4 linked regions of the Homo sapiens genome follow. The main gene of each other region encodes a partner of the protein of the gene in region 3 in a complex. Each region holds a gene or a part of one and is shown on either strand. Other genes may lie near its edges. The genes, in order: CORO2A, GPS2, TBL1X and ZER1.

Region 1 (7,111 bases), on a different chromosome or scaffold from region 3:
CAGATGGAGAAAGTGAGGTCCAGAGAGGGGAACGGATCGGCCCAAGGTCACACAGTAGGGAAGAGGAAGACTTCAATCTGGAATCTATGTCTGCTGACTTTAGTCTCATGGTCTTTCTTCTGGATTAAACTGTTTCTATGCTGGCCAGACTCCGGTAATGTAAGCTTCAGTGCCACTATTTTTTAAGCTGTATTTGTCAAATGAAATGTTTATTAAGCCTCAGATAAAACTGAACACTTCTTCACTAGACGGCAACTCCTTTATTTTTTTTTTTTTTTGAGATGGAGTCTCGCTCTGTCGCCCAGGCTGGAGTGCAGTGGCACAATCTCGGCTCACTGCCACCTCTGCCTCCCGGGTTCAAGTGATTCTCCTGCCTCAGCCTCCCGAGTAGCTGGGATTACAGGCATGTGCCACCACACCCAGCTAATTTTTATATTTTTAGTACAGACAGGATTTCATCATGTTGCCCAGGCTGGTCTCAAACTCTAGACCTCAGGTGATCCGCCCACCTTGGCCTCCTAAAGTGCTAGGATTACAGGCATGAGCCACTGTGCCTGGCCAGAAGACAACTTCTTACAAATAACAGCACTACATATGTCTCTCTCCCTAGTTACTTCCTTAGGATAAAGTCCCCAAAGTAGCCGGCTAAGGGCAAAGGGCAAATATGATCATTTTCATGATAACAGGCTGCCAGGTTGCTCTGCAAAATTAAATGCCACAGGCGAATCCCTATAGCCTTGCCAGCACAGAGTTTCATCTTTTTATTTTTATTTTTGCTAATTTTACAGGAATAAATACAGACTGCTTTCATTTATTATATGTTATGTGTTTTTTTGGAGAAAAAAAGGCACTCCAATCTTGGAATCAGGATCCCTGGGCTCGGTTGCTGGTTTGCTGTGTGACCTTTGCCCAGTCACATCCCCTCTGGCGACAGGGGATGCCTATCTGTAAAATGAGGGGGTTGAATGAGACGACGTCTGAAGGCTCCTTTCAGCTCAGACATTCCATGATTCCATGGTGCATTTAAAAAGTATTAGCAATTAAAGTCATAGCATGACTTTTTAATAACCAGAATCTGCCATGCTCCTAAATCAGGCCAAAAAGGCTTGAATTAGGCAAGCAGGAAAACAGGGCCCAGATTATACATGTGTCGAGATGACAGGAGACCCAGGTAGCACTTAAGCCTGTGCGTCGGAGCTGGGCTCATGGGCCAGCACATATACTTTGCCTGCTTTTACGAGGGGATAATAACACTCATTTGTGGTCCAGCTCCCAGTCCTGTGCAGCTCCACCATGGCCGCAGGGCAAGGTCATAGGCACTACTTCAGCCCTAGAATTCCATAGACTTTCAGTCCAAGGTAGCTCACCCCCAGGTTCTGCTTGAATACCTGTGATGACAAAGAGCTCACTACCTGTCCAGGGGCCTCCTGCCCTCTTTTGGCTGTTAAGAAAATCCCTGGGTGCAGGGCAGGTCATGAAGGGGACAAGAAAGACCAGGAGGCTGAGAAGTGATTCCTAGAAACTGCTCCCTCAAACAGGGCAGGCATCAGGGAGGTGGAGAAGAGGCCCCATGGGGCAGGAAAGGCCTGCAGAGGGGCTCCGGCTCTCCTCACTCCGGACCTCTCAGACGGTCCCCAGGAGGGGCAGGAAGCTGGGGAGACACATTCCAGTCCTGATGCACAGGTGGGTTCTGAACAAGCCCCAGGAAAGCGGAGGCCCCACAGCCTGCTCCAGGGCAGACACCTCGGCTCCCTCTTCTTGCCTTGGCTCCCTGGGATCTGATGGGAGAAACTGCTGGGCCTGGGGCTGCTGGGTCTGGAGATGAGCATATTTAAGGGACCTGACCACTGCCCCAGGGTGAGGGAGGAAGGGTCAGAGGTTGTTTGTGTGTCCAGAGCAGGACCAGCAGGAGAGGCAGTGACTGGGTAGCAGATTCCAGCTTGGTTTACAACTAGTGAGATTCCTATCACAAGGAGTGTGCAAGGGGGCAGCAAGACCTTCCAGAGGGGATCTTACAGAGGGGCTGGGCCAGATGCCATAGGTCTTCTTTACCTAGGGAGCCTGGGACCACAGTCCCTCAGACCTGTGCTCTGCCCCATCCCTTAATGCCACGCGGACACAGCACCTTGGCACTGTCACCCCTCTGAGGTCCAGGCGTGGCCGCCAGTCACCCCTTGTCACACCAGCTAGTGTGTGTCACACCTTATCACACACTAGCTCTGGGACACAGAGCTAGGCACCAGCACCTGGCCCGGGTGGGGAAGGGGAAGGAGCTATCCTATACCACTCTCTAAATCGAGGTGCCTACGTGGGGCTGGTCCAGGCAGTCGTGCCGCCAGGAGTCCAGCCACCTCCAACCTAGGGCTCCTCCAGCCCCAGACGAGTAAACCCTCTTGGCGGGCCGGCTGATGCCCCACATGCACGCCCAGGCCGGCTTGGCGGGGACCCGGGGATGCCCCCCACCCCACCGTTTCCTGTACCAGGAAGCTGAGGCCCAGCAGGTAACGCAGCCAAGAGGGGGAGGGTCCCGACAAGAGTCCCATGGAGCACCCGGGCCACAGCAGGGGCCTGTCGGGACCGGCTGGCCGCGCCCAGAGTGAGCTTCCCTCACCGCGGGCAGGAGGGGTGGGCGGTGCAGACAGTGCTCATGAGGGCAGCGAGCCGTCGGGAGCCCGGACCTCGAGGCGGCCCCTCCCAACAACCCCGCGAGAAGGGGGCCACCAATGAGCAAGCTATCCTGACGGGGAAACTGAGGCCTGGAGAGGAGCAGTGCTTTGTGCAAGGTCACGCAAAGGGGCTGAAAGCCAGGTCCCCCGCGCTCCGAGCCCCGCATCCCTCCCTCTCCGGGAGCTGCAGCCGCAGCGCGCACGTCCCGCCCGACGCCCCCATCGCGCAGACCGGGAAGGCACGGCCGGCGGCGCAGGGCCGCCCTACCTTGATGACTGCCGCGCAGGTGGCGGTGGCGGCGGCGGCGTCCAGCTCCGGCTCCGCGCTCCTCGCCGCCCGCCGACTCCCGGCGCCCAGAGCCGCCGCCGCCTCCCCCTGCAGCCCGGCGGGCGGGGCCGGAGGGCGGGGCGGGGGCCTGGCCCAAGGTCCGCCCTTTTGCCCGCCCCGCGGGTCCGCCCTGGCCACCCTTTTCCGCCCCCACGACCCCGACCGCGCTCCTGGCTCCCCGGGGCGGGTCTCGGGGCGCGCACACGTGCTGGGAACAGGCGCGCACACGCCGCAGTGATTGGGGCGGGCTGCCGGCCACCAGGCGGAGGCTGGGGACAGGCAGAGCCGCGGGCCCCACGTCGCGCCGTGCCCTCGCTGCGTGGTGTGGGATGAGGAACCTGACCTCCCGGAGCCTCAGTTTCCCCCGTTGTGAAATGGAGACAGTAACCGCGTCGGCCTCTTAAGGCTGTTTGAGCCCTGGATGTGACGATCCCGGCCGGGTACAGTGCGCGCGCCGAGCCCGGCCAGGGAAGCGCTCCTTTCCCCGAGCAGTTACAGCGGTTACCGAGGCTTCCCCGTCCGCAGGGAGGAGAGGAGCCGGGAGCGCCGCTGGGAACCGAGGAGGACGCCCTTCCTTCTCTCGGGACCAGCCGGGGGCGCTGCTGCCAGCCTCGCTGGCTGGAGAGCCCTGAGGACACTAGACAATGGGGAGGCCCTACCTTTGGGTACCACCCCCACCTAACACTACTGAGCCACGCACTCCTCTAAGCGCCTTCTGTGCATTACCTCGCTTCACTGTCACACAGGCCTATGAGGTTGATACCATTACTCACCTATTTAACACAAAAGAGCTGAGGCACAGAGATATTAAGTACCTAGGTTAAGATCACCCGGCTAGTCATGCAACCCCAGGCAGTATGGCTCCCACGGCTACTAAGCTAACAGCCACTCCACTCCACACCACGTCTGTGAAGAGCTCTTGGTTTTGTTCAGTAGAGACGGGTTATCTTGAGGGCCTTGAACTGCTCCGTGGCACATAGTAACCACTCAATATATAGTTGTGGAGTGGATAACAGAGTACACTGTTACTACTTTACATATCTGTATCGTTTCTTCTAAGCTTCTAATAATAGTGGCTTTATTTAGCCACTATTATTACCTCCATTTTACAGATAAGAAAACTGAGGCTTGGAGTGGCAAGGTACTTAGGGAGCTCTTGATTCTCTCCTTAGAATGTGACTCAGCTTCCATAGTCCACTGTACCACCCCCCTGCCCAGAGCTGGACGGGCTCCCTGCCTACCACCCAAAGCCCAGTGTGCACTATGGTCCTGAAAACCCCATCCTACAGCTCTGATTCAGACCTTCTGGAGCTGGATTGCCCAGCAGGTAGACTGAACGCATGCTTCTGGTGTTAGCGTGCAAGAGTTGGGTATCAAGCATATGGATGGCTGGGCGCAGTGGCTCATGCTTGTAATCCCAGCACTTTGGGAGGCCAAGGCAGGTGGATTGCTTGAGCTCAAGAGTTCAAGACCAGCCTGGCCAACATGGTGAAAACCTGTCTCTACTAAAAATACAAAAATTAGCCGGGCGTGGTGGCATGTGCCTATAGTTCCAGCTACTTGGGAAGCTGAGGCAGGATAATCACTTGAACCTAGGAGGTGGAGGTGGCAGTGAGCCGAGATCACATCACTGCACTCCAGCCTGGGCTACAGAGTGGGACTCTGTCTCAAACAAACAAACAAACAAACAAACATATGGATGAAATCAGAACATTGTGGGAATTCTTTATAATCATGGTTTGGTTTTTACTTGAATTACAGCTGGACGGTGGGCACCATGATCTTTCCCAGGCTAAGGCATCTGAATAACTTTGTTGTTGTTGTTTTTGCATGGTTTTGTTCTGTCGCCCAGGCTGGAGTGCAGTGGCACAATCCTAGCTTGCTGCAGCCTCCACCACACAAGCTCAAGCAATCCTCCCACCTCAGCCTCCCGAATGGCTAGAACTACAGGTGCGTGCCACCATGCCCAGCCAATTTTTATATTTTTTGTAGAGATAGGGTTTCGCCACGTTGCTCAGGCTGGTCTCCAACTCCTGGGCTCAAGCAATCTGCCTGCCTTGGCCTCCCAAAGTGCTGGGATTACAGGTGCGTGCCACCACGCCTGGCCTTGAATGTCTTAATTCACTTAGGGCTTGGGCCAGCATCTCTGGTGTGGCTTTCTACCTCTGCCAATGCCACTCGCCTTGCACTCTGACATCTCTGAGCCTTTGCTCTGTCTGCAGTTCTCTTCCCAAATCATCATCTCCCTTGTCTAAACCCACTCATCCTTCCAGGCCTAGCCTTCCTAGATGTCCTATGGATGTGCCCTCCAAGGCTTGCACCTGCATCTTCCTACCCTGTGCCATGGTGGTTGGTGGCTGGGACTGTTTGGGGAACAGCTGGTTTGACAGAGACATCTCTGGGGGCTGTGGGCATATGGACCCATAAGCCAGAGGGAGACCTCTGCAATGAACCTGGGACCCTTCCTGGGGTTGCTGTGGCTGGGGAGTGTCCTCCTCTCTTGCCCCTTCCCTCCCTCTAATCCTGGTCCAGATGCAGGATTGCACACATGGGGAAACTGAGGCCACAGTGGGCATGACCTACGCAGGATCCCCTAGCTAGAAAACCACATAGCAGATCTGGTTCCAAAGTTGGGCCCATCTCCTGGCATCTTCTATTAGGCCTTAGTGTGGATTGGGATGGGCCAGGAAACCTCCCTCTTCCTTCCCAGTGCACCCACATGGCTGGCTTTGTTAATCTTCCATATGTGGGTAAACATCTTGTGCAGGACCAGAACATATGTGTGTGTGTGGTGGGGGTGGGGGGCAAGTTCTCCATCTATCTGCCCCACATGGAACTTTCTGTACGATATGGCCCCATGTCCATGGGGGAGGGGGTTGAGAAAGAATGAGGAGACAGTGCCTGGGGGTTGGGGAGGGGTCTGTGTTTGGAGGATAGTAGCCTTGAACACGGGCAATCTCTGGAAGTGAGTGAGCACCTCTTATGTTAGGGGTTGTTGGGAGGGGGGCCTTCCACCTCCTTTGACCCAGTCCCTTTATTCTTAGGGATGTTGCCCCAGGGAGGTTCCCTGGGTAATTCCCTTTTCCTCTCCTTTAGAGCAGGTCGGACCACAGCTTGCTGGGGGCCTAAGGCCTGGGGAAGGCATGCTTTGAGCATGAGGTCCTGTCCCCTAGGGTGGGAAGGTGGGGCTGAGAGGGATCGGATCCTCCAGCCCTGGAAGGCAGCAGCCCCAGGGGAAGGGGGCAACAGCTGTGGTGCGGGCCAGGAACCTGACACCAGGAGTGGGCCCCAAACACCCTCCAGAAAGAGCAGGGAAGGGCAAGCAGGCGCCCCAGGGGCAGCAACAGCAGGCACAGATGCTCTGGGGTGGGCCCACCAGTCCCTGCTCAGCCTCCTTGCCATGTGGGTATCATGCTTCTCTTGTTGTCTCTGATGAAGGGGAGAAATAGTGCTACAATCCCAGCGTGAGGCAACCATGAGGAAATTCTTCCTCTAGTTTTCCTTGGCTTAGAACTATCTTCTGAGGGTATCCCCAGGAGGCCACAGGCCAGGCATGCCCCTTCCCTAGGTCCTTGGGGAAGGTGTTCTAGGTTCCACAGGTGGGTTAAGCTGGGGGAGTCCTCCCTGGCTTTGCAGTAAGGGCTCTAGGCTTGAGCATGGCTCAACCAGTGGCTGTGTCACTTTGGATAGGTTAGCTAATGTCTCTGAGCCCTGTCTACTCGTTGGTAACCTGAGCTTGGCCTGGGTGAGTTGATGCTGCAGGACAAGCAGTTCTCAATCCCAGCTCCCTGTCAGGGCCTGAGGAGGCAGTTAGCCCTGTGTCCCGTGTCCTGTGTCCCCAACCCTTCCATGTATCAGAATGCCTGGGCTCCACCACAGGCTCCAGGCATAGGACCCTAGCACCAACATTTTTAAAAAACTACTCAGGTGATTCTTTTTTTTTTTTTTTTTTTTGTGACAGAGTTTCGCTCTTGTTGCCCAAGCTGGAATGCAATGGCACGACCTCAGCTCCACGCAACCGCCACCTCCCAGGTTCAAGTGATTCTCCTGCCTCAGCCTCCCGAGTAGCTGGGATTACAGGTGCCCACCACCATGCCTGGCTAATTTTTTGTATGTT
Region 2 (7,793 bases), on a different chromosome or scaffold from region 3:
TCTGGGAGGGCCCTGCCCCCATGGGCTTTACCCTTCCCTGCGGGCTCTCTCCCCGACACATTTGTTAAAATCAAACCTGAATAAAACTACAAGTTTAATATGAAGCCCCCAACTCAGCTGCTTATTTGAATTAAATGGGTGTATTTGGAAGCCACAAAAAGACTGAACTCTGCCACTGAGTTCACTGGAACCCGCTGTCTATCACTTTGACTTGCTGTGGACCTGCCAGCCATCCCCCCACCCTCCAAGCAACCTTGACCTATTCCAGACAGTTGGGTGGGAGGCAACACAAACAGCAGCAGCCAGGGGCAGTGGCAGGTAGATTTTATTGGCCTGGGACACACAGGGGATACCCTCACCCACGATGGGGTGGGGGGTGTGGTGTTGAAGATATAATCTGATGGTCACTTGTGGTAGAATCGCGGGTTCTGGCTGTGTTGGATGAAGGGGAGCCGAGGGCCAGGTTGGCTGGTAGCTGCAAAGCCCGACTGGTGGTGGTGATGAAAAGAGGGCTTTGTCACTGGGCATACTCTCCCTTCCACTTAATACCCTACTGATAACCACCCCCAAAGAGGAAGGAAAAACCAGATGATGTGGGCCACCTGTCCTACCTAATCCTGCTTTTCCGGATCCCTAGTGTAGGGATTCTGACAGGTAAATTCTATTACCATTCTTACCTTTCCTGCTGGCTGCATCTGCACAGGGAGCTGGGGGGAAGCAAGGAGTCCAGGGGCTGGATGCAGAGCCTGGGGGTGCATGGGGCGCAGAGAGGACTGCAGAGAACAGAGTCAGGGCCTGAGGCATACTGAAGCTCCCCTTAACATATCCCTAACCCTGACCTCCCAAGGTGCCATACTCACTGAGTCGGAGAAGCCAGTCTGCTGGTTAGCATGTTCCATCTGCTTTTGCAAGGACAGGGCACCACCAGGCTGGAGGAAACCTAGGTGGGGAAGAGGGGCATGTGAGATGAGAATGAAACAGGGAGGGGAGGACCTGAGAGCTAGAGCTCCTGCATGGGATGTTATCACCTGTCTGAGTGGGCTGAAAGTGGCCATGCACAGCATAGGGCTGTGGCTGTGGCTGAGATAGGTACTGCACTGCAGGGAATGCCGAAGGAGCTGAGAAAGGAAAAGACAGAGCCATTAAAATCTTTTACTGAATGGCATTCCTCCTTTGACCTTGAGGAAGGCCAAGCCCCATCCCTCCTATTACTCACCTCTGAGCTGCTGACTAGGACTATAAGCTGGCTGTGTGGGCCCATAGTGAGGTGGGGGCTGAGCAGTCCCATAGGCACCACCAGGACTGCCTTGGAATTGTCCATGCTCTGGTGTCCCTGCAAAAGCAGCTGCTGAGCCCACGTAGTGCCGGGTCTAAGGAAGGAGAATGAGAACTCGCCTACAAACTCCTTGAAAGCTGAAACCCAGTGACTTGTGTGTATCTGTATGCCCCGTTTCCCCCTAAACTTAAGTGCTTGATATGTTTGTGACTTGAATACTGGTGGCAAGGATGCATGGATGGAAGTACTAGGGGCTAGGCATCCAATCCTACTCTCACCGTAAGCACTTGGGGTCCAAACATTTGTTTGGCTCTGTCAGCTGCCATGAGGGTGCCTGGGCGATTGTGTCCTCCAGGGCTCCCTAGAAAGGGAGAAGGGCTTCATGATGCTGAAATGGGAGGCTGTGACCTCCAAGAAGGCCGGTTCCATCTGGTGGTTTCTTTAGTCCTCACCCTGCATGCTGAGGAGATGAGTTCCTGTGTGAACAGTCAGGCTCTGCTGGTATGCAGCTGATGTTAGGGTGGTCAGGTCACTGGAGTGAAAGGAAGACAGGTCAAAGTCAAGGACAGATGCCTTCTCTTTTGCCATTAAACACTGGTTCTTTTACTACCTGATCCCAGTTCCACTTGGCCCCCATTTCAGTTTTTAGCACTCTGATCCCACCTCTGTTCCTTTCGCCTCCGTTTTTCTTCCTCATGTAAAACTTTCTTGAGCTGCAGGAAAAGCTGGTGCTTCTCTTCCTGTAGAGCCAAAAGCTTCTCCTCCAACTTCAGAATCTGGGATGGGGTGGGAAAAGAAGATGAAGGCAGGGAGAGTCAAACGAAGAAATCAAAGCTGGGAAAGTTCAAGGGACTGCTTACTTGTTCCTTGGTCTCCTCTAATGACATTCTCTCTTCCATCTCCTTTTTCTTCCTTCTCTCCTGTTCTTCCTTCATCTTCTGTTCCATCATCTTATCCACCTCTTCTTCCTCTGGAGAATCAGGCAGAATGAAGAAGAGGCAGGGTAGTGAAAACAATTCCAACGTTACAGATTGAAGACCAGCAAAACCCAGTCATCCCAACACGCCTGTATGCTCTTTGCCTCGAGGGGACAAGCTCCCCATCGCGGCAATAGGGAACGGAAAGGCTTTATCAGGTGCTCTCCAAGGTCCTTCCCATCTCAAGGGTTCTGGAGCGTGGAACAGGACGCTTAAATCCCACCACAACGGGGCTATTCCTTCCCTCCTCTGCGCTCGGCAGCGGGCGCGCTGGTTGGCCGGTGGGTTGAGGCCAGCCTTGAGGTACAGGAGCCATTCTGGGCCGTGCGTCCCCCTGCTATGGCCCCGGCTCACCCTGCCGCTTGCGCTCCCGCTCCATCATAATGTGCCGGTGCAGCGCCCTGGCCATGGCGTTGGAAAGCTTGGGGCGCTCCAGGAGTGCGGGCATGGTGCTGCCGTGGGCGCTCGGGCCGTGGGCGCCCGGCTGTCTCTGACTGCCAGACCTCAGACGGGGCCTGCGGGGAGGCGGGCGCTCAGAGGGGGCCGCGCCCGGCCCAGGCGGAAGCCCGTCCGCCCGGCCCGCTCGCCGCCCCGGTCACGTGTCCCAGGAGCCCGCCACCCGGCCGGGACCGCAGCCCCAGTCCCACCGCGCGCGGGCGGCGCCGGGGTCCCCGGCTCGCTGCTGCCGCTCCCTGCCCAGCCAGCGCGGACGACTGCCCTTCCTACCCGCCTTCTCTGCGCTTTCTCAGCGGCTCCGACGCGCCCTGGCCCCTGCGTCACATCCGGCGGCCCGGCCGAGTCCTTCCGGAGTCACGGCGGCGGCCGACCTCACAGGTGAAAGAAGGCGGAAGCGCGCTGCGACGGGTGCCCGCGGCGTACAAACCCCGTCGCCGGGAACGTGAGCGACGACGGCTGCAGACTGGCCTTGGCATCCTCAGCTCTCTTTAATTTCGCGGGCCCACCTGGTGGCACCCCAGGGGACGCGGGCTCCGGAGAGGGGCGCGCGAGAGAGAGGCCGAGGCGGAGGCTCTGAGACGGTGTTTATTGGCTCCTTAGAAATCAGAGTCAGTAACAACTGTACAGAGGCCCCCATCTTCCGTGCGCCCACCCTTCCCCACTCCCGCCCGGTGGCCCCGGAAAAAGCAGCTTCATGTGGGCACAGGGAGAGACTCCTCTGGGATTCACAGTAACCAGAAACAAAAACGGAAATAAATTAAGTGATGTGGGGTAGGGGAGTAAAAGGGAGTCATGTTCCCCAAATCAGTGCATGAAGAGGGGTACCAGGGCCTGGAGCTGGGCTCCCACGACTCCTCCCATCAGACGGAGTGCTGGGCCTCCGGACATGGAGCTGTGCCACTTGCCACCTACATCTGAGAGCCTGCCTACATGCTCCTGCGCGGCTGCCAAGCTCCAGCACCTGCGCATGCCACGAGTCACGGGAATGAGGTGGAGGCAGTCGCCACTCAGAGTCCATGGGCCCGCGGCCCGACTGTGCTTGTAGTAGTGGTGTCTCACCCCTCATTCCACCCGTACCAGCAGGGCACAGAGGAGTGTGGCCCCCTTCTCCTTAGTGACCCACTCAAGTTCGGCTGGACTGAAGTGAGGGTCAGGAGGTTCTCCAAGGGCAGCGGAAGGGGGTCCCGGGGTGTAGGAGCCAGGGCGCACACACACCTGGAACGCCACCTGAGCCTGGTGCGTCCGCTGGGATTTGGGGTCCCGGAATCTGTCAGACAAGAAAAAATAAGGGAGTGAAGCCTCTCGCCCCATCACCTCCCCCTTGCAAAGTCTGTTCCAACCACACAAGCCTTGCTGTACCTAGGAAATACTCCCACCTTATGGGAACTTCGCTCTAGCTGTTCTACCTGAAATGCTCTTCCTCCCAAAGCCTGCTCAGCTACACCCTTCACTTCCTTCTTCAAGCCTTTGCTCGAATCTCTCCCACCTTCTTAGGATGTCCACACCAACCGCACTGCTGTCTCCGCCCCATTCTTTCTCTGTTTCCATAGTCCTTACTTATTACCTTTAAAAATACTAAATACTGGCGGGGCGCGGTGGCTCACGCCTGTCCCAGCCCTTTGGGAGGCCGAGGTGGGCGGATCACGAGGTCAGGAGATCGAGACCATCCTGGCCAACATGGCGAAACCCCGTCTCTACTAAAAATACAAAAATTATCCGGGCTTGGTGGTGCGTGCCTGTAGTCCCAGCTACTCAGGAGGCTGAGGCAGGAGAATCGCTTGAACCCAGGAGGTGGAGGTTGCAGTGAGATCACGCCACTGCACTCCAGCCTGGGTGACAGAGCAGGACTCCGTCTCAAAAAAAATAAAAATAAAAATAAATAAATAAATAATACTTATTACGTATGAACATTGTAGAGAGAAAAGGCAGAAGTTCCACAAGAGCAAGGTTCCTTTTTTTGCCCACTAGAAGAGTATATAAGTAGTATTTGTTCAATGAATGAAGAAAGGGCTGAGTTGGAGACTGGCAGCTAGCAAGACGAGATGAGAAAAGGGGAGGGCGAATCATGAAGACCCCAGTGGCTGCGCTTGGGCCCTCTCCATCCGAGCCCCTGGAAATCTCTCCCCACCCCTCCCAGTACTCACTGCACTTTGGAGGCCAGGGTCTCCGCCCCAGCATATTGAAGGGAGGGGGAAAGCAGCACAGGAGGGGGCTGCTCCTCCCGAGGAGGTGCACAGTTCTCGCCAGGCTCCTCGAACCCTACCCCAGGTTCTCCCTTCAAAGGACGGCAGCTCAGGATGGAGGCAGTACCTGGGAGGAGAACTGGGTCAGGATAGCCCTTTTTATTCCTCCACAGCCCCCCAGGCTCAGCCCACCTTGCATGGGCCTACTCGCCAGTACCTGCTCCCAGCTCCCCTCGGTCCAGCACTCTCCGTACAGCGGCAACATTGCTCCCGTGATATGCCATGTGCCACTTCTTGGTTAGTGTCCCAGCCTCCAGGCGGGGATTCACTCTAGGAGGTGGACAAGCGGGGCAGATACAACGAAGGCCACTGACTCCCCAGTGGAGGAGCTTCACGAGGCTCTTCCTTAGACAGGAAGTCCCTGGCACTTCCTGGCTTTTCCTTAGACAGGAAGTTCTATTACTTCTTCCATGCACCCTCTTGGGATCCCCGTTTCTCCAGGGGGAAAACAGTAGGGGAAAGGCATGACCTTGCCCATATGTACCTGAGGTTGAACCTGCACCAGCCAAAGGGCAGTGCATATTCCCGGGGAGGCTCCCCTCTGCGCCTGTGGGCCTCGTCTCCTCGCAGCTTCCGGCAAGACTCACAGTAGCACAGGCTTCGCTTTGGCGGAGGCATGAAATAATCTTCTGCGGGACAGTGAGTAGCAGGCTTGGTGCTGTGGCTCCCACCTCAACCACAGTGGCACCCTCCAGCTGCTCTCCAAGGCTCTAGGCCTGGCCCTGGGAATGAAGTCAGTTCTGGCGGACTGTGGGACTCACCGGGAAGCAGCAGGAGTTCTTGGAAGCGAGAGCAAAGGGCATGGTACTCGCAGCTCTTTAGAGGACTAGCGGCAGGTGGTGGACCCCAGCACACACTCTCTTTGATACCTGAGGGAGCAGAGGGGCACAGGTCACAGGAGCTGGGCTAGAAGGGTGAGGGTGGGGGAGTAGGGGCAGGAGCTGGGTCCCTTTGGGCTGGCACACCGTCCACCATGTCTGCTTTCTCCATGTCCCCTTGGGTTCCAGCACTTTTCCCACTGGCAGCCCCTGGCTCAGGGTTCACGATTGTCACCTGCAGGGGAGAGGGTAGTCAGACAGAGCTTGGTCAGACCCCAGGGCCTGCTGATCCCTCCCTGGAACAGAGATTTCCCCTGTCCTGGACAGCGCAGACTCTCAGGCACCCCTCCTCCCTGCCCCCACTGCCACTAACCTGCTCACACTGCCCATAGAGGTCCACAAGCGCATGGCAGGGCTGGGGCACATCTGGCACAGCTACCCCCTGGTCCACCCCATTAACATGAAGATGCAGCCCCCCAGAGCTGTCCAGCCGCAGTCCCAGGATGGTGCCTTCAGGGCACGTGTCCAGATTGGGCCCAAACTTCTCGCAGATCTGGGAGGAGAGACCGGCTGTCTTCCAGAGGTCAGACTCCACCGCGGCAGCTGTCCCGCCCTTTGCTCTGCTTCCTTTTGCCAGTGCCTTGGCTTTGCCTCCATGCTTGCCCACTGCCGAGGTTCTCCTCCCACTGCAGTTACCTAGAGCCCCTCCCCTTCCCCAAAACTGGCACATTCTCAATGGCAGGGACACCGCAGGAAGCAGCAGGCCTAAGACTGACCAGGCAATGCTACTCGCCCTTGCCTGCCCATTACTGTTCCCCTTTTACACCTGTGGTCCTACCTCCAAGGCTAGGGGCCCACTTCTCCCTTCTGGCCAGCCCTTCTCTACTCACAGGCCTGGTCCTGTTCCTTCTCTCTGGCTCCTACTCACCTTGAGACCGTTGTGGAAGACCCCACGGCCCCGCAGCAGCCAGGCTGCCCGTTTGAGGGCACAGGCAGAAGCAGGGAAGTTGAGCCTCTCAGGCGCGCAGGTGATGACTCCCAGGACAAGGGAAGATGTCCACTGTCGGTTTAGGAAATCTATCCGCACCTGGGGAAGAAAGAACTACTCCATAATCACAGCCTCCTGGGAAGAACCAGGCTCCGCACCCCAGCCAGAGAGGGAATACTGCACCTCCCAGAATGTGGCCTGGGATGCTGCCTTTTCTTATGCTTGGAAGGACCAGAAAACGCTAATTTAGTTGTTTCTTTCCCTCTTTTTTTTTTTTTTTTTTTTTTTTTTTTTAAAAAAAAGAACCGCCAGCCGGGCATGGTGACCCACACTGTAATCCCAGCACTTTGGGAGGCTGAGGTGGGTGGATCACCTGAGGTCAGGAGTTTGAGACCAGCCTGACCAACATGGTGAAACTCCGTCTCTACTAAAAATACAAAATTAGCCGGGCGTAGTGTCATATGCCTGTAGTCCCAGCTACTTGGGAGGCTGAGGCAGAAGAATCGCTTGAACCCGGGAGGTGGAGGTTGCGGTGAGCCGAGATCATACCATTGCACTCTAGCCTGGGCGACAAGAGCTAAACTCCGTCTCAAAAAAAACAAAAAAACAAAAAAACAAAAAAAAAACATGCTGTTTGAGCCTTGACCTTGCTGTTGCCTCTGTAAGGATCTCTAAGGATTCTTATTCCTAGGACTTCCTTCACCTAGCTAGTTTTCTTTTCCTTTCTTTTTTTTTATTGAGACGGAGTCTCGCTCTGTTGCCCAGGCTGGAGTGCAGCGGTGCGATCTCGGCTCACTGCAAGCTCCGCCTCCTGGGTTCAAGCCATTCTCCTGCCTCAGCCTCCCGAGTAGCTGGGACTACAGGCGCCCGCCACCACGCCCGGCTAATTTTTTGTATTTTTTAGTAGAGACGGGGTTTCACCGTGTTAGCCAGGATGGTCTTGATCTCCTGATCTCGTGATCTGCCCGCCTCGGCCTTCCAAAGTGTTGCGATTACAGGCATGAGCCACTGAGCCTGGCCTTTTTTTCTTTTTTT
Region 3 (7,789 bases):
TTCCAATTCACTTCTGCAACCTTCAGGCATGCGGTGGATTCTCCCTAAATACTGGATGGCGATGGCTGTGTGGGAGGGGGCCAGCTTGGGAGGCGCAGGCATCTGAAGTCAGGCTCCCGCTGGCCAGGCAGGCAGCAGCCCGGCGGACTCCTTAACGGCTGTCTTTCTCCCCTGGAGATCTGAAACGTCTCTCCTCAGCCTAGGCTCTTTGCCCTTTAGAAACATGTGGACTTCTTCGGCCCCTTCCCATATCCAGCTTTTCTTTTGGTTCTGGTGGGTTTCATGTTTGCCAGTCTGGCCAGCATGGTCCATGTGGTCGAGCCCCACAGAAAGTGAGGGCGGGAGTGGAGGGGGCAAGACCGGAGGTAAAAACTCGAGTCCAGTCTCCGGCTAACTAAAAATAGTTATGGGGGAAAAAAGTTTATCTTTCCAACTAAAAAAAAAAAAGTGTTTACAATATGCCTTTAGTGTTGCTTCCTGGGTGGAACTGATTTTTCAATGCATGTGGTAGTGAAAGATTAACAACTTCTCGGATGTAGCATATTAGGTTTTTTTGCTTTTCCTAAGGGAGGAAAAAAAGCAAATCCAAGGCATCAGGAAAGCAGTGGGAGGATGGTCCTGCCTCGCTGGGCAGAGAAGCTGTGCTGATCAGCTAAGCCAGGAGGCCCACAGGGCACTGCTGCGGGGCAGAGCACCGGAATCTGGACGCCCTGCAGAAAACTGGGAGGGGGCCGGACCCAGGTTCTAGCGGAGGTGTGCTCCTATCCAGCAGGAGTAGATCGGATAATCTGAATTCCTGACCCTCGGGACCTGCTGGAGATGGCCTCCCTCTGCAGGGACCATTTTCCCGCCTCTGTTCGTCACCTTAAAAGGTGAAAAAAAATCTTCTAACTAAGATGATGTTGTACAGAACCAGTGGTACTGATATAATTGATGGGAAAACTCCAGAAATTGAAACATTCACTTCTAAGTATGTCTACAATAAAGTTATTTTTGCAAACTGTTTCCTCTTTAAAACCACTGACAGAGAGAAGTTCTCTGAGGTAAAGGGGCAAAATGCCTGAGAGTTGGGGAGCGAGGGTGGCAGCACTACACCACAAATCTCCATATTTGCCCTACAGGTGTGTGTTCTACTAAGGGCTGGAATCGCCTTAAGGGCCGGTGATCCAGTGATGAACAACTTTTGTTGTTTGCATTAGTTACCCAGCTTGGTGGCTTTCCACAAAAATGTGCAGCACATTTGAGACAGGACTACCCTTTAAAATAAACGCGTCATACTCAACGTTCTTCTGTATTTTATTTTTCCTAATTACATCTTTTCTAGGAAGGACTTGTAAACTTTTCATAAAATCGTCAAGTGCCACTTCCAACACCAAAGCCACTGCCTGGAACCTTAGCAGGGAGGTTGCCTTCCTTCCCCCTCGCCTTCCAGGTTAAACCAGGGACTGGGCGATGTTTCAGGAGAGGAAAACATCCAAAAGGCAGGTCAAACCACACATGACAATGCAAAGCAGAAACAGTTGCAAATACAATAGAGGGTAGGTTTTTGTTTCTTTTTAGGTTTTGCTCCAGAACATCACTGACTCGAGAATAAACGTCAGTCCCTACCTTTGTGGAACGTCCAACGCAGCTGGCTGGGGGAACACGAGGCCTTGCAGGGAGCGAGCCCCGGCCCCGGTCTGACGGAACACAGGCGACGCACGTGAAGTCCAGGCCCTATCCCAGCGCAGGCGGGCCTCCAGCGACCCACAGTTGTCACATATCCGGCCAGCGCCGACTCCCGAAGGCGCACTCCCCATACTCCACTCCGAGCACCGGTCCCATCGTTAGGGAAGGTCCCCCTGGATAGCAAGGCCGGGGCCCAGGATCTGCGAGACCCACCCCACCCGCCCCGTCAGAGCCCAGGAGCAGCAACAGGTCTGCGCTCTCCCCGGGCGGCGCTCTGCAGACCCTCGACGGGCCAAGGGTGCCCCCAGCCCAGCCGTGCGCTCAGGCCGGGGAGATGGGCGGAGGACTGGGGCTCCCGACTTCCTTGACAGTTTCTGCGCGTCAGAAACTGAGCAGACACGGGGCCCGCGCCACCTCGCCCGCCGCTTGCCCCACTCCGCGAGGCTGCGCTTCCACCCGGGTCCGGGAGGGCCGGCCCGCGTCCCGGGTATGAATGGGGCTCTTCTCCCCAACAGCGGGGAAATCCCGCCACCGCCCTCCACCCCGGTCCCCGGAGCCCGCGGTGGCGCAGGTTTGCCCAGCAAGCCCCTGAATCGGCAGACAAAGGGGCACCGGAGGAAAAGCCGAGCGCTTCCCTAAACTTACCGGCCACTTCCCCCTCCCCAAAACAAAGGAGCCCCCCGCCGACCTCCGTCTCTCCCCGCAAGGCGCGCCGGCACTTCGGGGAGCGGCCACCTCGGGGTATTGTTCAGGCTCCTGGGAGCGCGCCGCACCCCAGTCCGAGCGCCGCGGGGACAGTTGGCGACCTGCACCTACAGGAGTTCCAGGGGCGGGTGGAGCGTTCGGGCGCCCCGAGCCGCCGGCCGGACCCTGGAGGGTCAGCGCGGGACCCGCCTCCCCGCAGAAGTTTGCGGACCCCGCGCCCGGCCCGCCGAGCCCTGCGCACTCACCTCGTCGCGAGCAGCGCAACTTGTGGCGGCGCCGCGCGCCCGGCCGCGCTCCGAACCTCCCTCCAGCCGGCAGCCTCCGAGTCCCGGCCGTGCGGCGGCCGAAGAGGGCCCGGCGCCCCGGAGCAGCCGCGCGCCGCCCCCGGGCCGCCCCCGCCCCGCCGCCGCCGAGTCCCGGAGAGAGCGCGGGCGCTGGAAAGTTTCGGTGGCGAATGGCGGCCTGAGGGCGCTGCGGCGGCGGCGGGGCGGGGGCGCTGGCGGCTCCTCGCTCCCAAGCGCGGAGTGGGGGCGCTGAGGCGGGCGCGGCGGCGGCGGCGGCGGCAGCGGGAGAGGGCGGGACAGCGGGAGGGACTGGCACGGACAGTGACCTCCACGGGGAGCTGCCGCGAGCGCGCGGACCCCAGCCAGGAGGACCGCCAGGGGTCCGCCCCCGCCGCCGGCCCCTCCCTCACGGCCGTGGGAGGGGACCCGGCGTACCACCCGGCCCCGCCCCTGCGCCCCGGGGGAGCCGCGTCCCGAACCAGCCCCTCCCCTACGAGGGTAGGGACTCCGGCCCTGCCCCTCCCCCGCGGCTCCTAGTGGGGACCCGCGTCCCAACCCAGCCCCTGTCCCACGGTCGGGGGACCAGCGTCCCTACCAAGCCCGCCCCGCTCCCCCACGCCTAGGGTGGGTGAGGGGAACCCGGGCCTCTCCCTAGTTGCTCTGGTCCCGGTCCCTTCCCCGTGGCCTCCGTGGGACTGAGAGGACCCCAGGGCTACCCCCATCACATCCCAAACCCAGCCTTTCCACGACTGCCTCGAGGGGACGGGAACCTCGGCCACCCCCTCAGTTTCTAGGGGGCAGGGGAACCTCGATCACTGCTAAAGTGTTACCCTCCCCCACCCCAAAAAGGAAGCCACCCGGCTGCCCCAACAGAACCCCCTGCCACCTGCCCGATGGTGAATCTCCCTCAAAATCGGCGTCTTAGAAGACACCCCAGTAGTCTTTACCCCAGCTCAAAAAGTGGGGGTTCCGGCGGAGCCTCGACCTTTGCAAAACACCTCCCAAGAAGAGCCAGAAATGCTTAGGGACAAACTCAGACACACAGGCATAGGCGCCAGGAACTCGGGTGTGGGGGCTGAGGAGGTTGGGGGGACCTGGGCACTCGGGCCTCATCACTCCCACCCCAACCCCCCAGGCATCAGCCCTCTGGCCCTTGCAAAGTGCTTTATGTTGCAATGGCTTACACGGCCTGGCCCCGGTGTACCTAAGTCCCCAGCGCTCCTTCCTCCCCTCCACGTAGGCTACTCCCAACCACTCGCAGCCTTAATTCAGTTAAACAGATCTCCACTCCCCCTCCCCAGCACCTCTGGGGTCAGCCTCGTTGAATATTTTTCAAATATTCTTGCCCCTTCCTTTACTATATAATGAGCTTCGTGCTAAGAGCCCGGTACACTCAGCAATCTAAACTATAACCTCACTTGCTCTTCCTCGAACTCTAGACCATTTGTTGTTCTGGTTGTAGGGGGAGGGGGACCTAAGGTGAGGTTTTTGTTTTTTTGTTTTTGTTTTTGTTTTTCTGAGGAGTCTCGCTCTGTCGCCCAAGCTGGAGTGCAGTGGCGCGCTGTCGGCTCATTGCAACCTCCACCACCCTGGTTCAAGCAATTCCCCTGCCTCAGCCTCCCGAGTAGCTGGGATTACAGGCGCATGCCACCACGCCCAGCTAATTTTTTTTGTATTTTTAGTAGAGACGGGGTTTCACCATATTGGCCAGACTGGTCTGAACTCCTGACCTCAGGCAATCCGCCGGCCTCGGCCTCCCAAAGTGCTGGGATTACAGGCGTGAGCCACCGTGCCCGGCCGGAGGTGAGTTTTTAAGAGGCCGGTCCTCCACCAAAACGGCGGACCTCAAAATTACCCTGCAAAATATTGCTGTAAAACGTCAATGATGCAAAACGACTGTTGCTACACCATCATTAGAGGACATCAATAAAAAAATACACACTTACACAGTCTCCATAATTGTGAATCAGCAGAATAGATTGTGTCTTATTATGTATCAGTTGCCATTCAAGGCCCCCCAGAAGGACATGGTGGGGCCTTCCCTTGAGCCTGCCCTTCGTTGCTCCTGGGCTCCCTGGGCTTGTGCAGACTGATGCTGAGGTATTACATGCAATAGAAAAACGAAGGGTGCAATAGAAAACCCGAACGAGCTCATGATGCAACCCTGCCCTGGCTACACGTGCTTCCCTTCCCCCACCGCCTGCTGGTGGGAGTGCTGCGTTTTTTCCGCCTGTAGGGTCACATTGTGGTTGATTGATTCTCCTTTCGCCTTGCTCAGTCATTCAGATTTGGAAAGTAAATAACAAGTTGACATCATTACAGCTCTGGGCTTTACGCGGACGCAGCCCTCGGCTACCGCACACTCTGGAGTAGCTGCGCAGCCAACCAGCCTCCTAGCTTGCCAGACCTGCTTGTGGTTAGCAGTTGGAAATTCCAAGCTAAACTTGGTTAAAAGGCCTCTTTGTGTGTTTTGATTACTTGGCAGATGCCAGTCTTTTAAAGTATGGGAAAGTGGTGGAAATCCTCACTTTCAAACTGGAGCCCAGTGTGGCCAGGATTTACAGCTGAGCTCCTGTAATTGACAATGCAAAAGAGCTGAGAATTCATCTTGACTGTTTGACAATATCCCCATAATCCCACCACCCTTATTACCCGTAAAGAGTCAATATCTTTTATCATAGACTCACAGGACCCCAAAGGACACTGTAAGACCTAAGACAGGAAGAGAGACCGCCTACATTTATCGTGAAATCACCAAAATTCCTCTTTTTGAAATACTAGATGGACTGTAGGTGGGTGATAATTAGACTGTGTTATTTAATCTGTTTCAACGATTTTTCAAATGTGCAGTCCTATAAGGTGGGAGAAAACAAGGAAATAAAGTAGAGCGGCAAGGAGGTAGTGTATTCTGAGAAAGCTAAAGGATAACAGGGCGAGGGGTCCACAGTGATTTACACAGAAACCCACTGCACTAGCCATGTGCGTGTGTGCGCGTGTGTGTGTTGCAAACACTTATTTTCAGTTATTGACTGGAGGGAGGGGAAAACAAGAATCTGCTTGCAACAAATACTACCAGCATTCCCCATAAACAGTACCCAAAATTTTAATTAAAAGGCAGTAGGAATTCACACAAATATACTTAACTAATCTTTCACAAAGGAGCAAAGGCAATTCATCCTTTTTAACAAGTGGTGCTGGAACAACTGGACACCCATATGCCAAAAAAAAAAAAAAAACTAGGCTTTTTATCTTTCACAAAAATTAACTTAAAATAGAACATACCCCCAAATGTAAAAGGCAAAACTATAAAAACTCTTAGAAGATAACATAGAAAATCTAGATGACCTTGGGTTTGGTAATGACTGTGTAGCTAGAACACCAAAAGCATGATGCGTAAAAGAAAAAAAAATTGGTAAGTTGGGCATCACTAAAATTTGAAAAGTCTACAAAAGACACTGTTAAGAGAATGAGAAGACAAGTCACAGAATGGGAGGAAATATTTGCAAATTCCATATCTGATTAAGGATTGTATTTGAAATATGCAGGCCAGCATAGTGGCTCACACCTGTTGAGGCTGCTGTGAGCTGTGATCTCACCACTGCACTCCAGCCTGGGCGACAGAGAAGACCTTGTCTCTAATTTTTTTTTAGAGTGTGTGTGTGTGTGTGTGTGTGTGTGTGTGTGTGCGTGTACAGATATATGTACATATGTGTATATGTATGTGTATATATATATACATATTTCTTAAAACTCCACGATGAGAAAATAAACAACTGAATCAAAGAGCAAACGATCAGAAAAAAACTCATCAAAGAGATATACAGATGGCAAGTAAGCATATGAAAAGATGCTGAACATCATATATCATTAGGGAATTGCAAGTTAAAGTAACAATGAGATACTACTACATACATTAGAATGGCTAAAATCCAGAAAACTGACAATCCCAGATGCTGACAGGATGCAGAACAACAGCAACTCTCATTTGTTGCTAATGGGAATGCACAATTGTACAGCTACTTCAGAAGACAGTTCGGCAATTTCCTACAAAGCCAAACAGAGTCTTACCATACAGTCAGCCGTTGTGCCCCTAGGTATTTACCTAACTAAGCTGAAAACTTACGTGCTCCAAAAACCTGCACACAGAGGTTTATGGCACCTTTACTCGTAATCACCAAACACTGGAAGCAACCAAAGTATCCTTCACTGGGCGAATGGATAAACAAACTGTGGCTCACCCGCATAATGGAATATTACTCAGCACTACAAAGAAATGGGTTATCAAGCCCCCAAAACACACAAAGGAACCTTAAATGCCTATTGCTAAGTGAAAGAAGCCAGTCTGAAAAGGCCATATACTGTATGATTCCAACCATATGACATTCTGGAAAAGGGGAAACAGATAAGACAACAATAAGATCAGTGGTTGCCAGGGGTTCAAGGAGGAAGAAGGGATGAATGGGTGGAACACAGTGGGTTTTTACAGTGGTGAAACTATTCTGTGTAATACTATGATGGTGGATACACGTTATTATACATATAAGTGTGTGTGTGTATATATATTTGTCAAAATTCACAAAATGTACAACACAAAGAGGAAACCCTCATGTAACTATGGACTTTAATTAATAATAATATATGAATACTGGCTCCTTAGTTGTTACAAATGTACCACACTAACTTAAGATGTTAATAACACTGGAAGCTGGGGAGAGAAACATGTAACTCTGCACTATCGGCTCAGTTGTTCTGCAAATCTAAAGCTCTTCTTAAAAAAAAGCCTATTATTTATTTTTTTTTAAAAAAGAAACACTGTGCCAAATGCTGTGGCTCACACCTGTAATCCTAGCATTTTGGAAGGCTGAGGCAGGAGAATCACTTGAGCCCAGGAGTTCAAGACCGGCTTGGACAACACAGTGAGATCCCATCTCTACAAAAAACAAAAATAAAAAAATTAGCTGGGTATGGTGATCTGAGCTTGTAGTCCCAGCTACTTACTTGGGAGGCTGAGGCAGGAGGAACAGTTGAGCCTAGGAGTTCAAGGCTGCAGTGAGCTATAACCGTGCCACTGCACTCCAGCCTAGGTGACAGAGCAAGACTCTGTCTCTTAAAAAAGAAAGAAAGAAAGAAAG
Region 4 (7,671 bases), on a different chromosome or scaffold from region 3:
TTTTTTTTGAGATGGAGTCTTGCTCTGTCACCCAGGCTGGAGTGCAGTGGCTTGATCTCAGCGCACTGCAACCTCCACCTCCCAGGTTCAAGCGATTCTTCTGCCTGGGCCTCCTGAGTAGCTGGGACTACAGCCACCTGCCACCATGCTTGGCTAATTTTTGTATTTTTAGTAGAGACGGGGTTTCACCATATTGACCAGGCTAGTCTCAAATTCCTGACCTCAGGTGATCTGCCCGCCTCAGGCTCCCAAATTGCTGGGATTACAGGCATAAGCCACTGAGCCCAGCCTACAGTACTTGATTTTCATACGTTGAACCATCCTTGAATTCCAACAATAAATCCCATTCCCACATCTCACTTGGTCATAGTATATTGCTATTTTAATATGCTGCTGAATTTGGCTTGCTATATCGAAACTATATCTTTTTTCAGCCTCTTACTTTGAACCTATTTCTGTCTTTACATTTAAAGTGGGCTTATTATAGGCAGCATTTTGTTGGGGCTTGCTTTTTTAAAAGTAAAAATTTTAGAGGCAGGGTCTCCTTCTGTCACCCAGGCTGGAGTGCAGTGCACCATCATGACTTACTAAAGCCTCAACCCTCTGGGTTCAAGAGATCCTCCTGAGTAGCTGGGACTACAGGCATATGCCACCATACCTCACTAATTTTTAAATTTTTTGTAGAGACAGGATCTCACTATATTTCCCTTGCTCGTCTCAAACTCCTGGATTCAAGTGACCCTCCCACTTTAGCCTCCCAAAGTGAGAGCTTGTCTTTCTTTCTTTCTTTCTTTTCTTTCTTTCTTTCTTTTTTTTTTTTTTTTTGAGATGGAGTTTCGCTCATGTTGCCCAGGCTGAAGTGCATTGGCGCCATCTTGGCTAACCACAAACTCTGCCTTCTGGGTTCAAGTGATTCTCCTGCCCTAGCCTCCCAAGTAGCTAGAACTACAGGCATGCACCACCACACCCAGCTAATTTTTGTATTTTTAGTAGAGACAGGGTATCACCACATTGGCCAGGGATGGTCTTGATCTCTTGACCTCATGATCCACCAGCCTCGGCCTCCCAAAGTGCTGGGATTACAGGCATGAAGGCATGAGCCACTGTGCCCAGCCATTTTTTTTTTTTTTTGAGATGGAATTTCGTTCTTGTTGCCCAGGCTGGAATGCAATGATGCCATCTCAGCGCACTGCAACCTCCACTTCCCGGGTTCAAGAAATTCTCCTACCTCAGCCTCCTGAGTAGCTGGGATTACAGGCATGCGCCGCCACGCCCGGCTAATTTTGTATTTTTAGTAGAGATGGGTTTTCTCCATGTTGGTCAGGATGGTCGTGAACTCCTGACCTCAGGTGATCTGCCCGCCTCAGCCTCCCAAAGTGCTGGGATTACAAGTGTGAGCTGCTCTGCCCAGCTCGCTCTTTTCTTTTTTCTTTCTTTCTCTCTCTCTCTTTTTTCTTTCTCTCTCTCTTCCTTCTTCTTTTCTTTCTCTCTTTTCCTCTCTCTCTCCTTCCTTCTTTCCCTTCCTTCCTTCCTCCCTCCTTCCCTCTCTCTCTTCTTCTTCTTCTCCTCCTTTCTTTCTTTTTCTTTCTTTCTTTCTTTTTCTTTCCTTCTCTCTTTCCCTCTTTCCTTCCTTCCCTTCTTTCTTTCTTTCTCTCTCTTTTTTTCCTTTCTTGTCTTTCTCTCTTTCCCTCTTTCTCTCTCTCTCTCTTTCCTTCCTTCCTACTTTCTTTTTTTTTTTTTGAGACAGAGTCTTGCTCTGTCACCCAGTCTGGCCTCAGCCTCCCAAGTACCTGGGACTACAGGCAAATGCCACTACGCCTGGCTAATTTTTTTTTTTTTTTTTTTGTATTTTTAGTAGAGACAGTGTTTCACTATGTTGTCCATCTTGTCTCAAACTCCTGGCCTCAAGTGATCCGCCCACCTGAGCCTCCCAAAGTGCTGGGATTACAGGCATGAGCCTGGGGCTTGCTTTTCTATGCAATGTGACAAACTCTGCCTTTTACTTAAAGTGTTTAGACCCTTACATTCACTATGATTATTTTCCTGGTTTAATCTAAGCCCATTTTGCTATTTGTTTCTTTTTTTTTTTTTTTTTTTTTGAGACGGAGTCTCGCTCTGTTGCCCAGGCTGGAGTGTAGTGGCGCCATCTCGGCTCCCTGCAAGCTCCGCCTCCCAGGTTCACACCATTCTCCTGCCTCAGCCTCCCGAGTAGCTGGGACTACAGGCGCCTGCCACCACACCCGGCTAATTTTTTTGTATTTTTAGTAGAGACCGGGTTTCACCATGTTAGCCAGGATGGTCTCGGTCTCCTGACCTCGTGATCTGCCCGCCTCGGCCTCCCAAAGTGCTGGGACTACAGGCATGAGCCACCGCGCCTGGCCTGTTATTTGTTTCTTATTTCCTATTTGTTTTCTGTTTTCTTTCTTTTTCTTTTGTTTGAGACAGAGTCTCACAGTGTTGCCCAGGCTGGCGTGCAGCGGCGTGATCTCCGTTCACTGCAACCTCCGCCCCCAGGGTTTAAGCAATTCTCCTGCCTCAGCCTCCAGAGTGGCTGGGACTATAGGCACATGCTGCCACACCTGGATAATTTTTTAAAATTTTTTATTTTAGTAAAGACAGGGTTTCACCGTGTTGCCCAGGCTGTTCTCGAACTGCTGAGCTCAGGCAATCAGGCCACCTCAGCCTCCCAAAGTGCTGGGATTACAGGCGTGAGCCACCAAACCGGGCTTTTTTTTTTTTTCTTGTGAAACAGAGTTTCACTCCTGTTGCCCTGGCTGGAGTGCAATGGCACAATCTTGGCTCACTGCAAACTCTGCCTCCCAGGTTCAAGCGATTCTCCTACCTCAGTCTCCCAAGTTCCCAAGTAGCTGGGATTACAGGCGTGCGCCACTATGCCCAGCTAATTTTTGTATTTTTAGTAGAGACGGGGTTTCACCATGTTGGCCAGGCTGGTCTCAAACTCTTGACCTCGTGATCTGCCTGCCTTGGCCTTCCAAAGTGCTGATATAACAGGCTTGAGCCACGACGCCTGGCCCAAGCAATGTATTAATATGAGAGTTCCCATCTAGCCATATCCTCGTCAACATTTGTTATTGTCTCTCTGATGATGTCCATCTTAAGGAGCATAAAACCGTACCTCCCCACCTCCTGGGCTCAAGCAATCCTCCAACTTCAGCCTCCCGAGTAGCTGGGACTACAGATGCGCACCACCATGCCCTGCTAATTTTTGTAGAAATGGGGTCTCCCTATGTTGCCCAGGCTGATCTCCAACTCCTGGGCTCAAGCCTCAGCCTCGACAACCCCATCTGCTGAGATTATAGGTTGTGAGTCACTGTGCCAAGCCCAACAGCTTTTTTAAGGATTCAAGACTGTACGAACATAGTTGTAGCTGGTCAAAGATTAAAAGGTGCTATGCAAGAAAAAAGAAATCCACAAAATTAGTTCTTGGAATGGAACTGAGGCACCTGTCAAGAAAGGGTTCCTCAAGAAAGGAGCATCTAGCTAGGGTGTGGTAGCTCACGCCTGTAATCCCAGCACTTTGGGAGGCTGAGGTGGGCGCATCACCTGAGGTCAAGAGTTTGAGACCAGCCTGCCCAACATGGCGAAACCCCATCTCTACTAAAAATACAAAAATTAGCCAGACGTGATAGTAGGCGCCTGTAATCCCAGCTACTTGGAGGCTGAGGCAGGAGAATTGCTTGAACCCGGGGAGTCTGCAGTGAGCTGAGGGCCATTGCCCGCCAGCCTGGGCAACAAGAGAGAGAAACTCCGTCTCTCAAAAAAAAAAAAAAAAAAGAGAAATCCAGAGAAGAAATGATGGTGTTTTGAGATGGAGTCTTCCTCTGTCGCCCAGGCTGGAGTGCAGTGGTGCGATCTCAGCTTACTGCAAGCTCTGCCTCCTGGGTTCAAACGATTCTCCTGCTTCAGTCTCCTGAGTAGCTGGGATTAGAGGCGCGCACCACCACGCTCGGCTAATTTTTGTATTTTTAGTAAAGACGGCGTTTCACCATGTTGGCCAGGCTGGTCTCGAACTCTTGACCTCAGGTGATCCGCGTGCCTCGGCCTCCCAAAGTGCTGGGATTACAGGCGTGAGCCACTGCGCTCGGCCAGAAGGAACTGGTTTGACAGGATCCTTAGGACTTGGAGACTGGACGAGGGGCCCAGGAAAATGTAGGGGCCGAGGTCGCCGCCCAATTTCCCATTTGGAAGCTCGGTTGCCTGGTGGCGCATGCCCTAGATGGAGGTTAGGAGCACCTTTTGGGGGACGGTGATGACTGCGGGTTGACACGCGAGTGTGAGCCACCCGTGGAGAACGCAAGACATGTTCAACAGGGCGCTGGATGGAGGGGGCTGGCGCCCAGAGTCAGTCCTGCTATTCAGCAGTGTTGGGCTCAGGTGAACCGCAGCGCCAGGGCGGGCACCGATCCTAGGGTCCCACGAACAGGCCCCTCGGAGGCCAGGGAGAGCCCTGAATGACGCGTTCTCTCGGGTGGCCTGGGGGGGGCATCCCGCGGCTTCCTCCACCGGCGTAACGTGCCGGGCCCGGGGAAAGGAGCCGCCCGCCGGTCCCCGGAACCTTCTGCCGCCGCCGCCCGCGTTAGCCGCGGGACGGGTCGGGGGAACCCGATCGCTGTTGCTAAGGGGCGGCCCCGGAAGTGACGCGCCCCGGGTTTGTTGACAGCGGAGGCGGCGGCGGCTGCAGGCTCCGAGCCGTAGGAGCCGGATCGGGGGAGGGGCCGGGCCCAGGAGCCTCAGCCCCGCCGGCAGCCCTAAGGGCAAGGTAACCGCCACGGGGTCCCCGTCGCGACCCCCTCCCTCCCGGAGCTCCCGTCCCCGGGATCCCAAGCTCCGCCCCGCCGACCCCCGTCTCCCCTGGACCCCGGCTCTAGCCTGACGAGATCCCCAACCTCCTGAGGTGCTCTGGCCCCGGATTCTCCCGGGCTGCATTCTCTGCTCCTCCTCGCCTGCGAAGCATCACGTCCGCTTCCCGACGCTGAGGGCAGCCCCGTCCAGGGTAGGTCCCGGACCCCGGGCCAAGGGACGTACCTGCGTCCTCCTCCTTCGCCTCCTGCCTACGGGGCCTAAGCATCGCCGCTGCAACCACTCTCTGAGGTCCATCTCCGCCAGTGGTGGGAGGGTTCCTTTCTCTATCCCTGCCGCCAGGTCTGAGAATCGTGTCTTTAAAACTGAGCTCCCTTCCTCCAGAAAGAAAATGACGCTCTGTCGTTTGCCCCTACAAGATGGGGGATCGGTGTAGGGCTGAAAGGGCCACCCTCTGCCCCTCCTACCTGTTGGATGAGCTTAAGTTCCCCCAGAGAAGTGCTTAGAAGCTCAAGGACGACTTGGATTCTGGATCAGCTCCCAAAAGGGATGACACAAAGTATAGGGAAATCCAACAGGGTGAGGTTGCAACCGGAGGGCCAAGGGAGCCCGACAGGTGAGTTGATAGTGAAACTGACTGTGCTGGCCACTATAGCTCTCTGGGTGGAACTTGTCTTGGCTGCTCTTTGACCGAAAGAGCCCAAGATTTCCAGTCTTTGCCTGTGTTTGTCAGTCCATTCGTTTTGTTTTGTTTTGTTTTTCTTTAAATAGAGATGGGGTCTCACTATGTTACCCAAGCTGGTCTCGAACTCCTGGGCTCAAGTGATCCGCCCGCTCCAGCCTCCAAAAGTGCTGGAAATACAGGCATGAGCCACCGCGCTCAGCTAGTGCATTTGATTTTTAAGGGGGAGGGGAATGGAATGTCTGATGTCTTGGGAAAATCCTTCCATATATGATCTTTCACAGAATGTTTCTCTTCAGACTTCAAACTGGTTAGGATGAGCATAAAAGCATAGCCTTGAAAAGGGTCACGGGAGGCTATACTTAGAGCAGAAAGTGGTGGCCAGGGGTGAAGGGCCTCGCTACTTTGGTTCATTTGTTCATTCAGCAAATAATAAACATGATATGTAAGGAGGTAATAAGTGGTTTGGAGAAAAATAGAGAAGGAAGGACCATGGGGAAGGAGTTGGGAGTTGTCATTTTATAGAGGGTGTTCAGGGAAGGTCTCTAGTAAGGTGACCTTTGAGCAGAGATAAGTGAGGGAGCAAGCCAGGTAGTTCTCTTGTGGCAGAGCATTCCGCAGCAAATGCAAAGGTCCTGTGGTCATATGCCTGGTGATTTGAAGAAACAGCATAAGGGCTCACGCTTGTAATCCCAGCACTTTGGGAGGCTGAGGCAGCCGGATCACCTGAGGTCAGGAGTTCAAGACCAGCCTGGCCGACATGGTGAAACCCCATCTCTACTAAAAGTACCAAAAAAAAAATTAGCTGGCCGTGGTGGCTCATGTCTGTAATCCAAGTTACTCAGGAGGCTGAGGCAGGAGAATTATTTGAACCTGAGAGGTGGAGGTTGCAGTGAGCCGAGATTGTGCCCATTGCATTCCAGCCTGGGTGACAAGAGTGAGACTCTGTCTCAAAAAAAAGAAAGAAACAGTGGGAGGATGGGGGACTGGAGCAGGTTGAAGAAAGGGAAGAGTGGTTGGCAAGAAAGTCAGAGAACAGTGGGGACCAGAAAAAGGTGGGGAAGACATCAGGGGCTGTCCTTGTGATACAGGGTCACAGGGTGTCTAATGGGACACCCTTTCAGAACCGTACTTGTTGAAGTGTCTGGTGGTTGGAGAAAATACAGATTTGTTTTAGATGACAAATGGCCATTGTGCTTGGGGCTTCGGTTGTAAGTACCCTTCTTCCATCTTTGTAATGACCATTGATGGAACAAATACAAAGAATCATGGTCACAGAGAACTGCGATTAAATCAAGTTAAGTTATGCCGCTGCTTCCTGGTTGTGAGAAGGTGGGCACGGGACCTTTTTCCACCTCAATCTTCTCATCTGGAAAATACAGCAGGCTGGGTGTGGTGGCTCACACCTGTAATCCCAGCACTTTGGGAGGCAGGTGGATCACCTGAGGTCAGGAGTTCGAGACCAGCCTGGCCAACATGGTGAAACCCCATCTCTACTAAAAATACAAAAATTAGCCGGGTGTGGTGACGCATGCCTGTAATCTCAGCTACTGGAGAGGCTGAGGCAGGAGAATCGCTTGAACCTGGGAGGTGGAGGTTGAAGTGAGCTGAGATCATGCCACTGCAGCACTCCAGCCTGGGCGACAGGAGCGAAACTCCATCTCAAAAAAAAAAAAAGAAAGAAAGAAAAGAAAAGAAAATAGGGCTGTTGGATTAGATAAAATCATGGGCTGAAGTGCTTAATGCAGTATTTCACACAAAGTGCTCAATACATAGCGGTCACGCTGATGAGGATGATGTGATGATGAGGAATGTGGGCATGTATGTCTGCCTCAGAGCCGTTCGTTTTAGCACTAGCTGGTGGTGTCACCAGCTCTAGCTGCCTCCATCAACTAGTAGGATTTGAGGAAATATTGGGGAAAGCAAGACAGAAACTTCTTGACACCCCTCAGAGGTAACTGGGTTAATATTCTGCAGAGAAGACGTTAGCTTGGTCCTGGCTTTTCTGACAGCAGCGGAGGGTGATGGGGACTTTTAAAAAAGAGCCCAGCACTGCCAGCGCTTTGGGAGGATCGCTTGAGGCCAGGAGTTTGAGACCAGTCTGGAGAACATAGGGAAACCCTATCTCTAAAAAAAAAAGAATTAAAATGAGCCCAGCAAATTTCCAT

What was found.
Region 1: TBL1X (region 3) and CORO2A share a complex: the UniProt entries of both Homo sapiens proteins name them as parts of the N-Cor repressor complex.
Region 2: TBL1X (region 3) and GPS2 share a complex: the UniProt entries of both Homo sapiens proteins name them as parts of the N-Cor repressor complex.
Region 4: TBL1X (region 3) and ZER1 share a complex: the UniProt entries of both Homo sapiens proteins name them as parts of the E3 ubiquitin ligase complex.

What each region holds. Positions count from the first base shown.
Region 1 is NC_000009.12:98,189,625-98,196,735, forward strand, and holds the start of CORO2A (coronin-2A), read right to left. Parts: upstream 3,014-7,111; 5' UTR 2,935-3,013; intron 1-2,934.
Region 2 is NC_000017.11:7,312,352-7,320,144, forward strand, and holds GPS2 (G protein pathway suppressor 2), read right to left. Parts: upstream 3,010-7,793; 5' UTR 2,980-3,009; intron 2,769-2,979; 5' UTR 2,702-2,768; coding exon 2,608-2,701; intron 2,247-2,607; coding exon 2,137-2,246; intron 2,053-2,136; coding exon 1,940-2,052; intron 1,809-1,939; coding exon 1,729-1,808; intron 1,638-1,728; coding exon 1,555-1,637; intron 1,371-1,554; coding exon 1,217-1,370; intron 1,119-1,216; coding exon 1,029-1,118; intron 941-1,028; coding exon 861-940; intron 774-860; coding exon 678-773; intron 489-677; coding exon 405-488; 3' UTR 310-404; downstream 1-309. Other genes in the region: NEURL4 (neuralized-like protein 4), read right to left, coding at 3,772-3,976, 4,854-5,019, 5,110-5,222, 5,437-5,581, 5,714-5,821, 5,918-6,005, 6,144-6,323, 6,699-6,857. UniProt on the Homo sapiens protein: Key regulator of inflammation, lipid metabolism and mitochondrion homeostasis that acts by inhibiting the activity of the ubiquitin-conjugating enzyme UBE2N/Ubc13, thereby inhibiting 'Lys-63'-linked ubiquitination.
Region 3 is NC_000023.11:9,460,277-9,468,065, reverse strand, and holds the start of TBL1X (F-box-like/WD repeat-containing protein TBL1X), read right to left. Parts: upstream 3,009-7,789; 5' UTR 2,619-3,008; intron 1-2,618. UniProt on the Homo sapiens protein: F-box-like protein involved in the recruitment of the ubiquitin/19S proteasome complex to nuclear receptor-regulated transcription units. Plays an essential role in transcription activation mediated by nuclear receptors.
Region 4 is NC_000009.12:128,768,924-128,776,594, reverse strand, and holds the start of ZER1 (protein zer-1 homolog), read left to right. Parts: upstream 1-4,667; 5' UTR 4,668-5,014; exon of another isoform or gene 5,015-5,437; intron 5,438-7,671. UniProt on the Homo sapiens protein: Serves as substrate adapter subunit in the E3 ubiquitin ligase complex ZYG11B-CUL2-Elongin BC. Acts to target substrates bearing N-terminal degrons for proteasomal degradation with the first four residues of substrates being the key recognition elements.